Homo sapiens: one gene and its partners. The protein of the gene in region 1 interacts with the protein of each later gene in a pairwise test. Each region holds a gene or a part of one and is shown on either strand. Other genes may lie near its edges.

Region 1 (7,043 bases):
CAAATAATGGTCACATTCTGAGGTCCTGGGGTTGAGGACTTCAACACGGGCATTATGGCCGTTGGGGGAGGTAGGACATAATTCAGCTGATATTGGTGCATTTTGCACTTGGATCATGTAGATATTTTCCATGGAGCTTTGAATCCATTTCTTCTTTTTTTTGTAGACATGAATGGATTTATTCTGGGCTAAATGGTGACAGGGAATATTGAGACAATGAAAGATCTGGTTAGATGGCACTTAAAGGTCAGTTAATAACCACCTTTCACCCTTTGCAAAATGATATTTCAGGGTATGCGGAAGCGAGCACCCCAGTCTGAGATGGCTCCTGCCGGTGTGAGCCTGAGGGCCACCATCCTCTGCCTCCTGGCCTGGGCTGGCCTGGCTGCAGGTGACCGGGTGTACATACACCCCTTCCACCTCGTCATCCACAATGAGAGTACCTGTGAGCAGCTGGCAAAGGCCAATGCCGGGAAGCCCAAAGACCCCACCTTCATACCTGCTCCAATTCAGGCCAAGACATCCCCTGTGGATGAAAAGGCCCTACAGGACCAGCTGGTGCTAGTCGCTGCAAAACTTGACACCGAAGACAAGTTGAGGGCCGCAATGGTCGGGATGCTGGCCAACTTCTTGGGCTTCCGTATATATGGCATGCACAGTGAGCTATGGGGCGTGGTCCATGGGGCCACCGTCCTCTCCCCAACGGCTGTCTTTGGCACCCTGGCCTCTCTCTATCTGGGAGCCTTGGACCACACAGCTGACAGGCTACAGGCAATCCTGGGTGTTCCTTGGAAGGACAAGAACTGCACCTCCCGGCTGGATGCGCACAAGGTCCTGTCTGCCCTGCAGGCTGTACAGGGCCTGCTAGTGGCCCAGGGCAGGGCTGATAGCCAGGCCCAGCTGCTGCTGTCCACGGTGGTGGGCGTGTTCACAGCCCCAGGCCTGCACCTGAAGCAGCCGTTTGTGCAGGGCCTGGCTCTCTATACCCCTGTGGTCCTCCCACGCTCTCTGGACTTCACAGAACTGGATGTTGCTGCTGAGAAGATTGACAGGTTCATGCAGGCTGTGACAGGATGGAAGACTGGCTGCTCCCTGATGGGAGCCAGTGTGGACAGCACCCTGGCTTTCAACACCTACGTCCACTTCCAAGGTAAGGCAAACCTCTCTGCTGGCTCTGGCCCTAGGACTTAGTATCCAATGTGTAGCTGAGATCAGCCAGTCAGGCCTTGGAGATGGGCAGGGGGCAGCCCTGCGGACATACCTGGTGACCACCCTTGAGAAGTGGGGAAGTGGCTGCTCCGCTGGGTCCCTGGATGGGCCGTCCACCTCCTGGACCTGCTGCCCTACTATGTGCACGACTATACAACATCCTTTTTCTTACATCATTTAATCCCCTTATGATGTGGTGAAGAGGTATTTGTGCCTTTGTTTACCAGTGAAGAAATAGAGACTCGGAGAAACAAAGTGCCTTGCTCAAGATGGCACAGCCACCAGTGGGGGTCCTGGGATTGAAACCCACATCTCCTGGCCCCACAGCCCAGTTCTACACTCAGAAGGGTCAGGTTCATATCTCTTGAGAAGGTCAGGAACTGGGGTCCCTGGCCCATGCAGAAATAAGCAATTGGCTTGCTTAAATCCCTTTCATGTTAGGAGGGGCATTACTGAAAACCCTCTACTACAAAGATTGTTGATTTTTTTTTTTTTTTTTATTGAGACAGGGTCTTGTTCTGTCACCCAGGCTGCAGTGTAGTGGTGCCATCATTGCTCACTGTAGCCTTGAACTCCTGGCCTCAAGCGATCCTCCCACCTCTGCCTTCCAAAGTGTTGGGATTAAAGGTGTGAGCCACTGCACCCAGCCACAGATTGCTTAAAGCATTCATTTAACAAATACTTGTTGAGGATTTGCTACTTGTAAGACTTTAAGCCTGGCATCTCAGAGGAGGCCAGAGGAGGGCTGTATAGGCCCTGCCTCCAGGCTTTTAAAGGTCAATGGGCAAATGCCTAGGATTTGGAGCTGCAGGGAAACGTGCTCCACAAGGTAACTCAGGGAAGCCTCGGGGCTCTCAGAGGACAGAGGTCACTGGGGAGCGGAGAGCAGGCCTTGCCTGGCAGTGAGGGCAACAGGGCTGGTGAAGCTAGGAGCAAGCATGATGAGCCCAGCCTGCAGAGTTTGGGGCAAGGAACGAGGATGGGGCGGTTGGCTTGGCATGAGTGTTGAACCAGAAAATGGGCCTGGGGAGGGCAGAGCTGGAGACACTTTGAACGCCATGCTTGGTAGGTGTGGGAATGGGGACGCGTTCTGTTCAGAGGTCATCCCGGAAGCCTGCCGTGTGCAGACTGGAGGCAGGGAGGATTGTTTGAAGGTTACGCAAGAGTCCAGGCACACAGTCACGGGAACACGTGCTCAGGGAGCAGCTCGGCAAATCCATGGGTGGGGTGGGGCTGAGGGGTGTGTCTAAGAGACACTGAGGAGGCTCTGTCAAGATGTTAACCTCGTGAGGGACAGAGAGCCAGGCGGGAGGTGAAAGACAAGACTGTGGAGAAAGAGGTTCAGTGGCGCATAGTGATTTTTCTTACCACAACAACCTCCTTGAGGTCTTTCCCTTCGGGTTCAGGGAGAGGTGATAGATGGGGGGATTGCTCAGCCCTGGCACTGACTGGTCACAGGGGCAGAGGCCAGCCCGAGGGTTGCCCGGTTGAGGGTGGCAGCACACTGTGCAGGGCAGAGCAGGGACACATGGACTTAGCCTGCTGTCCCTAGGAGAAGTGCTGGGAGGAGCGCTCACTGAGAAGGAGGGTCCTGCAGAAGGCAAAGGCAAGAAAGCCAGTGGCATCTGAAATGGGTCTCCCTTCGAAAGAGAGCACATCCACCTGACCCAGACCGCAGAGCCAGGCCAGGAGGAAGAGGAGGAAGAATAAAAAAGCCAACCACATCGGGACTCAAAGGAAGCCCAGGATCCTCGCCGGCCTCCACCGCATGCTGCCCTGACCCTGCCCCACTTCCTAACTTTGCTGGCCTCAGTTTCCGTCAAAGGAGGCAGCCACTTCCTGCCCACATGGTCTGTCCAGTGAGGAGATCGGGGGCTGTCTCGGGACCTCTAGGTTTCCCTTTAGCAATGATGTTCTATTTACATGACCTCAGCAGGCAGCTAGATGTGTCCCACTAGAGAGGACCTGAGGATCTGGGGCCTGATGGGCTCCAGGGTACCGTCTGCCCAGTGCTTGCTGTGCTCCTGAGCATGGGGCGCTGGCCCTGGTGGTTTCCATGACACCAGGTCCTGACTTGACCTCGACAGATTTACCTAGCCTCCGGATGAGAATGGTGAGCTGTGCATGTCAGACGAGCAGAGGGAAGACGGCAGCCACTCTCATGTCAAATCCCAGCGTCTTTTGGGAGGCAGCTTCCCTTTTTTAGTTTAGTTTGTTGGAAGAAAAGAATTGTCCCTTTCCCCCCTCTAAACTAAAAGCCTTGCCAGCCCAGGTGGGCAGCACCGAGGTCCCTGCAGGGAACGTGCAAGGGGAACCCTGCAGTTTCCCGCTCACATGCCCTTCCGAGACTGAGTGCTCCGAGGACTGAGGACGAGAAATATGCCAGGTCTGCCACTGCCTTCTTACGAGACCCGGACCCAGGGGAGGCACAGCCATGCCCAGCTCCTGCCTGCCAGTTCTGTCCTCCCAGCTGCCCTACTTTCATGCTGGGACCTCCAATTCAGTACAAAGGGAGACCTCACTGTTTCTGAACCATCTCTACTCAGACTCCCAAGTGCCACGTGCCCAGGGGACTGTTCTGTGACAAACTTATACACAACTTCACCCTATTCTCCTAAGAACAACCGCAGAATAGGCCTTTCAGGATGAGTGGGAGGACAGCCGAGGGCAGGGATGTGCTAGTGTAAGGTCGAGGCAGAGGGTGGGCTGCTGTCATGGAAAGACCCCAGGTAACTGCGTCACACACAAATTTGTGTCCTTCTCCCACAACGGGCTCTCCCGAGTTCTCTGTCATCTGCACGGCCCTGTGAGCAGGAGGGGAAACAGAGGGCTCACCCCTGCCCCCAAGGCCCAGTGTGCAAATCCATTCATCACAACGAGGTTGTGTGAGTCTCCCCAGTAGCAAGGGCTGCTGAGGAATGGAGCCCTCGTTTCCGGGGCCTGCGTGGCCCACTCTGTATTCTATGACTGTGATGGGGGAGGGTGGGGGCCACAGGACAGCTGGTGGGCTCTGCCATGGCTGGGGCTAGACATGGATTAAAAAGTGAGTATGAGCAGGGGCCTCTAGGAGTGGTGGGATAGTGCGGTGGTGGCCACATGTCATTCTACGTGCGTCCAAACCTACAGAATGTAAAACACCAGGAGGGAGACTCAAAGAAAACTATCAACTTTGAGTGCTGAGGACGTGTCAGTGTAGGTTCGTCAGTTGCAACAAATGGGCCACGCTGGTGTGAGATGTTGATCACGGGGGAGGCTGTGTAGTGGGGGACAAGAGTTATATGGGAACTTTCTGTACTTTCTGCTCGATTTTGCTGTGAACCTAAAGTCACTCTAAAAAATAACATCTCTTAAATTTTTTAAAAAGTGAGTGTGTCAAACCACAGCCTTTGGGTCAGGACAGTTCTAGGTTTGAGTTGACCTGGCAGGTACCAGTGGCTTATGTCCCTTAAGGTGACAGATGCAAAACCCCCGGTTTGGTGCCTGGCATGTTGTGTGTCTTGCAGGTGGCGGTTAGGGCTGCCTCAGTGAACTCAAATGGCTGCATTTTACAGGAGAAATATTTGAGCCACACTTGCGGTCCTGTGGCCAGGAGAATGCAGAGTGGCCTGGGGGGGGCCAAGGAAGGAGGCTGAGGCAGGGCGAGGGGCAGGATCTGGGCCTTTGGTGTCTGCCAGCCCTCATTCCTGCCCCTGTCTTGGGTGACTCTTCCCTCCCTGTCTCCTGTCTGGATTTCAGGGAAGATGAAGGGCTTCTCCCTGCTGGCCGAGCCCCAGGAGTTCTGGGTGGACAACAGCACCTCAGTGTCTGTTCCCATGCTCTCTGGCATGGGCACCTTCCAGCACTGGAGTGACATCCAGGACAACTTCTCGGTGACTCAAGTGCCCTTCACTGAGAGCGCCTGCCTGCTGCTGATCCAGCCTCACTATGCCTCTGACCTGGACAAGGTGGAGGGTCTCACTTTCCAGCAAAACTCCCTCAACTGGATGAAGAAACTATCTCCCCGGTAGGAGCCTCCCGGTCTCCCCTGGAATGTGGGAGCCACACTGTCCTGCCCAGGCTGGGGGCGGGGTGGGGAGTAGACACACCTGAGCTGAGCCTTGGGTGCAGAGCAGGGCAGGGCCGCGGTGGCACGGGGCTGGGCAGGCGGCCTGTGTGTCTGTCTACCAGTCCTCTATCCAGCCAGCACCCAGCTCTCCAGTTAGTGTCTGTCTTTCAAGTGCAGGCAAGGTAAAGGAGGAGAGGAAGAATGCTTTTTCTACACTTACACTTGCCTGGTAGTTTTGGAGGGGGAGAAAACATTGCAATCCGCCCTCTGAGAGAGGACCATTTTGGTCCCACACCTGACACACAGCACACCTGTGACATCCAAGAGCTTCTTGGAACTGACTTGCCAGGAGGGTTCGGACTTCGCGTGAGCGGGGGTGGGGCCTTCTCAGGGAGCGTCCCTTGACTCCAGAACGCCCTTGCTGGCGGCTGGCGGCTGGGTGGGGATAGGTGTTGTTAGCTCCTCTTTCCTGCTGCAATTCCTTTCCACAGAGCCCTGGACTCAAACTACACATCACCCCAGATCATCGAGGCCTGGAAATCTGCTCCCAGAGGCAGGCATTGAGTGACACGATGGCTTGACATCAACTCTGGGTGTTTTTTATGTTTTAAAAATTGTGATGGTAAAATATACGTAACAAAATTTGCCATCGTAACCATTTTCGAGTGCACAGTTCAGTGGTACTAGGCCCATTCACACTGTTGTGCAGCCATCACCCCCGTCCATCTCCATTTATCTTCTCAACTTCCCAAACTGAAGCTCTGTCCTGCTGAAACACTAACTCTCCATTTCCCCTTCCCCTTGGCCCCGGCAACCACCACGATGTCCTCGAGGTTCACCCATGTTGTAGCACATGTCAGAATGTCCTTCCTTTTGAAGGCTGAATAATATTCCATTGCATGTGGTTACCACCTTTTGTGTATCCACTCATCCATCGATGGACACGTGGGTTGCTTCCACCTTTGAGCTGCTGTGAATAGTGCAGTGTACCCTGTAAACATGGGTGTACTGTCAGCTCTTATAAGTGCTTGATACATCACTGGAAATGTCCATGGGCTCTGAAGGATGCCAAAAGATGGAAGAGGCTCTATACGAAGATCAATCGAGTTGACATAGCAACGTGTCCAGCACGAGGTTGACACTGTACCCTCCTGCCTCTCTCCTTTTCATGGGTGTCATGTCATCAAGAACACTGCTGTGGCAGTAGTAAGACACAGTGCATTATTTCAGAGAATAGCATTTAAAAATTACCCAAGTAACACACCTTCAATGCAGCCAACCTAAAAACAGAATGCACCAAAGGACAACCATTCCTAGGTCCTCATCGGTAAATCTTCTATGTCCCTCACATAGTATTGCAAATGACATGAAGGATTTTTATTGTAGGTTTTGCTGAAATTTTCCCCAAGGGGGAGGATGACTTAGTTGGGTGATGGGGGGAGCAAACATCCCTGTCGTCAGGGTTGGGTGCAAGGAGCATAAGCCTGCCTGGCCTCTGGGAGAGCCCTCACTGTGTGGCCTGGAGCCTTCCTAACTGTGCATCATCTCCCCAGGACCATCCACCTGACCATGCCCCAACTGGTGCTGCAAGGATCTTATGACCTGCAGGACCTGCTCGCCCAGGCTGAGCTGCCCGCCATTCTGCACACCGAGCTGAACCTGCAAAAATTGAGCAATGACCGCATCAGGGTGGGGGAGGTATGTGTGAGCCTGTGTCTGTGCCTGACCTGGGTTCCAAGTGTGCACAGGGTGGGAGGCATGGATGTAAGGGACACAGAGGAGGCTATGG
Region 2 (3,530 bases), on another chromosome or scaffold:
GGTTTGGCCATTCTGACTTGTGCCATCTCTGAGCCCTCTATAGGCTTGTCATCATACACATATTCAAGCACCTGGCATGATCATCAGAGGGATAAAAGTGTCCATTTCTTGTTCACTAAGGATTTTACTCCATTTAGGCCAAGTCAGAACTTCGAGCAGCCATTGATCGGTATGTGCAAGAGAAGATTGTGCTAGCAGCTCAGGCAATTTCACGCTTTGCTTACCAGAAGATCAGTAATGGAGATGTGATCCTGGTATATGGATGGTATGGTCCAGACCTTGTGACTGAGCAGATTGGGAGTTGGAATGATCTGAAGAAGGGACTACCCACTTGCCTTTGGGAATAAGTTAGTCATCAGTTACTGACATTTATAACTGAATCCTCCTCTTCATTCACTCTAGCTCATCTCTGGTATCACGAATTCTTCAGGAGGCTTGGACAGAGGGCCGGCGGTTTCGGGTGGTAGTGGTGGACAGCCGGCCATGGCTGGAAGGAAGGCACACACTACGTTCTCTAGTCCATGCTGGTGTCCCAGCCTCCTACCTGCTGATTCCTGCAGCCTCCTATGTGCTCCCAGAGGTAAGTACAGAGGAAAAGGACTCCAAAGTTGGCGGTGAAAAGGTGTAGTAGTATAGACATAATCTCACCTTCCCAAAGTTACAGTTTTGTTTTTGTTTTGAGATAAGGATGGAGTGCAGCGACGTGATCACAGCTCACTGCAGTCTTGACCTCCTGGGCTCAGGTGATCTTCCCACCTCCGCCTCTGAGTAGCTGGGACTACTGGTGTGTGCCACCATGCCCAGCTAGTTTTTTATTTTTCTTGTAGAGATGGGATATCGCTACATTGCCCAGGCTGGAACTCCTGGGCTCAAGCAGTTCCCCCTGTCTCGGCCTCCCAAAGTACTGGGATCATAGGCATGAGCCACTGTGCCCAGCCACAATTATTTAAAAATATTAGAATTATATAGCCCTGGCTTGGTGCCATGGCTCAATGCCTGCAATCTCAGCACTAAGGCAGGAGGATCACTTGAGCCCAGGAGTTCAAGACCAGCCTGCTCAACATAATGAGACCCTGTACACACACACACACACACACACACACACACACACACACACACACACCCCACCCCACCCCCACCCCGGGCATGGTGGCATGCGCATGTAGTTCCAGCTACTTAGGCTGAGGTGAGAGGACTGCTTGAGTGCGTGCGCGCGCGCACGCACACACACACACACACACACAGCTACTTAGGAGGCTGAGGTGAGAGGACTGCTTGAACACACACACACACACACACACCCGGGCATGGTGGCATGCGCATGTAGTTCCAGCTACTTAGGAGGCTGAGGTGAGAGGACTGCTTGAGCCCAGGAGGTTGAGGCTACAGTGAGCTGTCATTGCACCACTGCACTCCAGCCTGGGTGACAGAATGAAACCCTGTGTCAAAAAAAATAATTATATAGCTCTGTTTCTATTTAATTGGAAAAACACTGACAGTATATTACAGCAGTCTAGCTATTGCAAAAACATTACATTAAACTAGCAACCAGGAAGAGGGAACAAGACAAAAGTAACTTCAAAGTTTACTTTTCCTGTGGGAGATTTGGTGGGTCAGTGGTCAGGTGTTTTCACAGAAGAAAAGCCATCATTAAGATTTATTAGGCCGGGCACAGTGGCTCAAGCCTGTAATTCCAGCACTTTGGGAGGCCGAGGAGGGCAGTTCACGAGGTCAGGAGTTCACAATCATCCTGGCTAACACAGTGAAACCCCGTCTCTACTAAAAATACAAAAAATTAGCCGGGCGTGGTGGTGGGCGCCTGTAGTCCCAGCTAATCTGGAGGCTGAGTCAGGAGAATGGCGTGAACCCAGGAGGCAGAGCTTGCAGTGAGCCGAGATCATGCCACTGCACTCCAGCCTGGGCGACAGAGCGAGACTCCATCTCAAAAAAAAAAAAAAAAAGGATTTATTAATTGCCGGACTCAGTGGCTCACGCCTGTTATCCTGGCACTTTGGGTGGCTGAGGCGGGCAGATCACCTGAGGTTGGGAGTTCGAGACCAGCCTGACCAACGTGGAGAAACCCCGTCTCTACTAAAAATATAAAAATACAACAAATCAGCTGGGAGTGGTGGTGCATGCCTGTAATCCCAGCTACTCGGGAGGCTGAGGCAGGAGAATCACTTGAACCCAGGAGGCAGAGGTTGTGGTGAGCCGAGATCGCGCCATTGCACTCCAGCCTGGGCAACAAGAGCAGAACTTCATCTCAAAGAAAAAAAAAAAAAAGATTTATTACTTGTTGTCTGTTTTTGTTTCTTTCCCTTCTTTTCACAGGTGTTGAGATTTATTACTTGTCTTAATGTTGCTGTCCTGTAAGTAGGGGACCTTATTTTGCATTGATACAACAATGACATTTTTTTCTTCCTCTTCTCCTGTGAAACAGGTTTCCAAGGTGCTATTGGGAGCTCATGCACTCTTGGCCAACGGGTCTGTGATGTCACGGGTAGGGACAGCACAGTTAGCCCTGGTGGCTCGAGCCCATAATGTACCAGTGCTGGTTTGCTGTGAAACATACAAGTTCTGTGAGCGTGTGCAGACTGATGCCTTTGTCTCTAATGAGCTAGGTAAGGAGGCAAAAGAGAAGCCTCCAGCTACCTGTGAAGACTTGAGAGGGAGGGAGAGGGGCGGATAAACTAGAACTTCTTTTCTGAAAGAACATAATGGGTACGCCTTCCATTGCAGATGACCCTGATGATCTGCAATGTAAGCGGGGAGAACATGTTGCGCTGGCTAACTGGCAGAACCACGCATCCCTACGGTTGTTGAATCTAGTCTATGATGTGACTCCCCCAGAGCTTGTGGATCTGGTGATCACGGAGCTGGGGATGATCCCTTGCAGTTCTGTACCTGTTGTTCTACGAGTCAAGAGCAGTGACCAGTGACGGGGGAAACACAGGGTTAATAAATGCCATACTCCCTACCCTCAGCAACTCTGCTGCCTTTGTTTCTCTTTTAGCATCTCCACCACTTAAGTTAGGAGTCCAGACTTCACAACCCCTTTTATCACCTGCTACTCAGACCTTTGTGAAGACCTGCTCAAGTAACTAGCTCCATGCCAGTACATTGGGACTAACCTGAAGACCCGTATAAAGAACCAAAACTACCCAAATCAATCATTCACTGAGCATCTACATGCCAGACACTAAACTGGGTGTGAGGAGGAATATGAAAACAAATAGTCCTGGGCTGAGTGCAGTGACTCATTCCTGTAATCTCAGCATTTTGGGAGGCTAAGGCAGGAGGATTGTTTGAGCCCAGAGGTTTGAGACCAGCCTGGGCAACATGGCAATCCGGTCTCTACAAAAAATAAAAATTAGCTGGGCATGGTTGTGCTCATCTGTTGTTCCAGCTACTCAGGAGGCTGAAGCCAGAGGATTGCTTGAGTCCAGGAGGTAGAGGCTGCAGTAAGCCATGATTGTGCCGCTGCACTCCAGCCTGGGTGACAGAGTGAGACCCTGTCTCAAAAAGAGAGT
Region 3 (5,122 bases), on another chromosome or scaffold:
CATCATCTCGTTTGGCAAAATATGTGTTAGTAAAACTTTTCTCAGAATACTGAATGCATTGATCGACTTCCTCTGGCATTGGACACAGTGGTGGAGAAGGCTGAGGCCCTGATGGGTAATTTAGGCTCTATTCTCTGTTCCAAGATCCCACTGAAGGTCTTAGGCATGAATTCAGAACACCCAGCCAAGGGTGTATCCCACTCTGCTGAGCTTCATCTTGGTCCCTTAGCTCATCTTAGATGAGTGGGAAATGCCAGACCCTGGTGCTCCTTCCTCTTGTTGATGAAAACTCTCGTTGTCTAAAAGAGTTTCTACTTATACCTTGGCTGCTTTCCTTCAAATCTTAGTTAGAGAGGATTTTCCATATTTTGTCATCTCACGCTTCTTTATTCAGAACTGCTTGTAGAAAAATAAAGTAACCATTCTTGTGAGTTCTTTAAAGGTGCTAGCTGACCAGTTAGGAAATCCACAACCCTTCCAAGTAAATAGTGTGAAAGTAGCTCAAGAAGATCCAGAGAATTCCTGGAGTTTTGTTTTGAGAAAATGAGTTTTGCCTTCTTATTCATTCCCACTGTGGAAATTCTGAGTTTCATCAAGGATAATCTTTTGTAAGTTATAATTGTTTTCTAGGTATATGCTGGGAGATTTTCACTGTTGTCATTAAGAATAAAAGTGTTGCAATTTTCCCAGTTCAAGCATGGAAGAAAATTTATTCAGGAACTACAGACAGAGTAAATAATACTGTGCACAGACGAGTTAACAAATTAATTTTCCTAATATCCCTCAAACAATATCTGTGAAGATTATTTAGGGAGAAGTGAAAATAGACAAAACCCAATTATCCAACATCACATTAAGTTGCTTAACTTGCAAAGTTTTCAAAGAAATATTTTCACAGAATTAGAGAATGTTATCAAATATATAATGAAAAATATCTCAGTAGCCCAGTCCATTTTCCATCAGGTGAGCCTTCGACAAGATTTAAACATCTTTTTATCATTCTTCTGAAAGCAATCTATACCGATTATCTGGTATAGATTTTCTGCAAAGGAAAACTGGTCTCTCAGAGACTTGAGTCTCTTTAAGGCTTTAAAAAGGGCTTTCAGCAAGTATTTCCTTCTTGTAAAATAGTAGGATTCAGGGTAAATTACTTGCGACCTTAAATCATACTGGCAGCTTGTCATGCCTTCAGGGCTCAAGTAGAAGATCTTTGTCATGACACACACTTTTTTAGTGTAACCACCAATTTTTGCCAGCTTCTGCTTTAAGGTTAGGGCAGTTTGTGTAGAATAGCCTTTAAACTCCTCATCCTGTACCATGTGGAAGGTGTATAGGACTGGAGGACTGTCCTGGGAAATCAGAAGAGCATCACAGAGGACTTTGTGGTTCTCTTGCAAGCCCAGATCCACAGACCAGCTCCTAGAGAAGATCAGTGAGCCCTTTCTGACAGAGTCCATTTCTTCACATATTAATTGCTTAAGTCCTTCATGTTGTAAGAACAGTTTTCTGCAAAGGTTTTCTGGAGTATACGTTATCCTTCCTGATAGCCCTGAATAAGGAAATAATAATAATAAATTATAAAACACTAGGAAGTTCCCATTTAAGCCATGGCAAAGTAGCTTGTAAAAAACCAATCTTCCCATCAAAAACACTGTAAAAGTTGTATAAAATATATTCAAACAATAATTTAAAGAACTAGAAAGCACCAATAAAAGCAGTATTTGAAGTGCCACAGTCTTTGATAGAGGTGAAACACAGAAAGTAGCTTCACATTCACCCCTGCTTTTTCCCTAAGTAGATTTTCTATATCATGGCATGGGTAAATAGAACCCAAGGAGAAATCATCAGTCTTATTAGGCTGAGGAAAAGAAGTAAGAAGAGCTGGAATATGAGAAGTAAAATCTCAGAGAAAATGAAGCTGCAGAGAAGAAGCCAAAGTCTACATACAAATTTCCCTCAACTCATTGGCTAATACAGGTCAGATGCTGGAAACACAGAAGAAAATATCAACTGGGAGACTAAAGAGCTGAATGTAAGTTTCTTCAGCCTCATGGTGCTCAGGAAACACAGACTGGAATTCCAGTCCCAAAAGAGTGGAGGGATCTTGGTAAACACCAGCGACATTACAGCAATAGAAAAGCCATGACCTAGTAGTAACGGCAAAATTAAAAACTATTATACCTAGAAAAGGATAAAAAAACTTCAAAAGAATAAAAGCAATGGGTGGTACTCTAACTACCTGTCAGAAGTAAATATAGCCCTTTTTGGAGAAATGTAATATCTATCAAAGTCTCTACAATTTGTAATCCATGATACAATAAAAAATTACGAGACAGAATAAAAATCAGAATGAATTACTAGAAAACAGGAGAAAAATCAGATCAGAGAAAAAGACTGACAAGTGCTTCAGATATTGTAGTTATCAAAGAGGGACTTTAACTGTAATATATTTAAAAACAAAAAATAATAATAAAATAGATGAAAAGATGAAGATGTCCTTATTCTCTTACAGCCTTAGAAAAACTAAAATTGAGGGATAAAAATTGTGTGGGCATTCCTTAACTGAAAAATACAGTAGGTGGTAATAAGAACTTATTTGATAATATTTAACAGCAGACAGAGCATAGCAGAAAACAGGACTAGTCAATAGGAAGACAGGATGGTAGCAAAAGTCCGAACTCAAACTCAATAAAAAAAAAAAAGGTAAAAACAGAAGATAAGAGATATATCCGAAACTGTCAAAAGGTCTAGCAAATTTATAAGTCCCACAAAGAGAAAGGAGAGAAAAATAAGATAAGCAATATTTGAAGAGATAAACAATTATAGTTTTTTCAAAGTTGATTAAAGATATCACTCACAAATACAAGAGTATACCAATCCTTCTCAGACTCTTCCAAAAAAATTGAAGAGGAGGAAATACTTCCAAACTCATTTCATGAGGTCAACATTACCCTGATCATGAAGTCAGTCAAGGACACTACAAAAAAAAAGAAAGTTACAGGCCAATATCACTGTTGAAACTAGATGCAAAAATTCTCAACAAAATGCTAGCAAACCAAATTCAACAGCACATTAAAAGGATCATTCGGCCCAGTGTAGTGGCTCACGCCTGTAATCCCAGCACTTTGGGAGGCCAAGGCAGGTGGATCACCTGAGGTCAGGGGTGCAAGACCAACCTGGCCAACATGGTGACACCCCGTCTCTACTAAAAATACAGAAAATTAGCCAGAAATGGTGGCAGGCACCTGTAATCCCAGCTACTCGGGAGGCTGAAGTAAGAGAATCGCTTGAACCCGGGAGGTGGAGGTTGCAGGGTGCCAAGATAGCGCCATTGCACTCCAACCTGGGTAACAAGAGTGAAACCATGTCTCAAAAAAAAAAAAAAAGAAAAAAAAAGATCATTCATCATAATAAGTGGGATTTATCCTTGGGATGCAAGCATAGTATAACATGTGAAAATCAATAATTGTGATATACCACATTAATAAAATGAAGGGCAAAACTATATGCTCATATTAACGGATACAGAAAAAGCATTTTACAAAATTCAACATTCTGTAATTTAAAAAAACCTCTTAACCAACTAGGTATAGAAGGAATGTACCTCACCACAGCAAAGACCATATATAAAAAACCTAGAGCTAACTCCATGCTCAATGGTGAAACATTGAAAGCTTTTCATCTAAGATCAGGAACAAAACAAGGATGCCCATTTCACCACTTCTATCCAATATGGAAGTCCTAGCCAGAGCAATTAGGGAAGAAAAAAGAAATAAAAAGAATCCAAACTGGAAAATAAGAAATTAAATTGTCACGGTTTGCCCACAATGTGAACTTATATATAGAAAACCTTAAAGATGCCACCAAAAAATGATCAGAACAAATAAAAGAATTCAGTAAATTTTCAGAATACAAAAATCAGTAGCATTTCCATACACTAACAACAAATTATCCTATAAAGAAATCAAGAAAACACTCCCATTTACAATAGCTACAAAAAATACTTGATAATAAATGTTATCAAGGAGATGAAAGATTTCTATACTGATATCTATAAAATGCTGATGAAGGAAATTGGAAAAGACACAAATAAATGGAAAGATAGCTTGTGTTCATGGATTGAAAAAATCATATTTTTAAAATGTCCACACTACCCAAAGTGATCTACAGATTCAACGAAAACCCTATCAAAATTCCCATGTCATTTTTCACAGAAAAATGACTGTATACCTAGAAAACCCTAAAGACTCATCCAAAAAGCTTCTAGATTTGATAAATGAATTCCATTAAGTTTCAGGATACAAAACCAATGTACACAAATTAGTACTGCTATACAGCAAGAGTGACCAAGCTGAGAATCAAATCAAAACCTCAATCCCTCCGACAACAGCTGCAAAATAAAATAAAATACTTAGCAATATACCTAGACAAGGAGGTGAAAGATCTCTACAAGGAAAACCACAAAACACTGCTGAAAGAAATCATAGATGAAACAAACAAATGGAAACACATCCCATGTTCATGGATAGGTAGAATCAATATTGTGAAAATGACCATACTGACAAAAGCAATCTACATCAATGCAATTCCCATCAAAATACCATCATCATTCTTCGCAGAACTAGAAAAAATAACCCTAAAATTTATATGGCACCAAAAAAGAGTCCACATAGCAAAAGCAAGACTAAGCAAAAAGAACAAATCTGGAGGCATCACATTACCTGACTTCAAATTATGCTACAAAGCTATAGTTACCAAAACAGCATGGTTCTGATATAAAAATAGGCATGTAGACCAGTGGAATAGAATAGAGAACACTGAAAGAAAGTCTAATGCTTACAGTTCAATTGGATCTTCAACAAAACAAGCAAAAACAAAGTGGGGAAAGGACACCCCATGCAACAAATGGTGCTGGGATAATCGGCAAGCCACATGTAGAAGAATAAAACCAGATCCTCATCTCTCACCTTATACAAAAACCAACCCAACAGGAATCAAAGACTTAAATCTAAGACCTGAAACCATAAAAATTCTACAAGATAACATCAGAAAAACAATTCTAGACGTTGGCTTAGGCAAAGAGTTCATAACCAAGAACCCAAAAGCAAATGTAACAAAAACA

The links. The genes of interacting proteins can lie anywhere in the genome.
Region 2: the proteins of AGT (region 1) and EIF2B4 interact in binary tests that used the Homo sapiens proteins (3 or more experiments, as listed by UniProt).
Region 3: the proteins of AGT (region 1) and SLFN12 interact in binary tests that used the Homo sapiens proteins (3 or more experiments, as listed by UniProt).

Annotation. Positions count from the first base shown.
Region 1 is NC_000001.11:230,704,102-230,711,144, reverse strand, and holds part of AGT (angiotensinogen precursor), read left to right. Parts: intron 1-291; 5' UTR 292-321; coding exon 322-1,150; intron 1,151-4,944; coding exon 4,945-5,212; intron 5,213-6,807; coding exon 6,808-6,952; intron 6,953-7,043. UniProt on the Homo sapiens protein: Essential component of the renin-angiotensin system (RAS), a potent regulator of blood pressure, body fluid and electrolyte homeostasis.
Region 2 is NC_000002.12:27,363,809-27,367,338, reverse strand, and holds the end of EIF2B4 (translation initiation factor eIF2B subunit delta), read left to right. Parts: intron 1-137; coding exon 138-265; intron 266-402; coding exon 403-580; intron 581-1,454; exon of another isoform or gene 1,455-2,262; intron 2,263-2,440; coding exon 2,441-2,621; intron 2,622-2,739; coding exon 2,740-2,939; 3' UTR 2,940-2,987; downstream 2,988-3,530. UniProt on the Homo sapiens protein: Acts as a component of the translation initiation factor 2B (eIF2B) complex, which catalyzes the exchange of GDP for GTP on eukaryotic initiation factor 2 (eIF2) gamma subunit.
Region 3 is NC_000017.11:35,410,379-35,415,500, forward strand, and holds the end of SLFN12 (ribonuclease SLFN12), read right to left. Parts: intron 1,550-5,122; coding exon 960-1,549; 3' UTR 544-959; downstream 1-543. UniProt on the Homo sapiens protein: Ribonuclease which is part of an E2/17beta-estradiol-induced pro-apoptotic signaling pathway.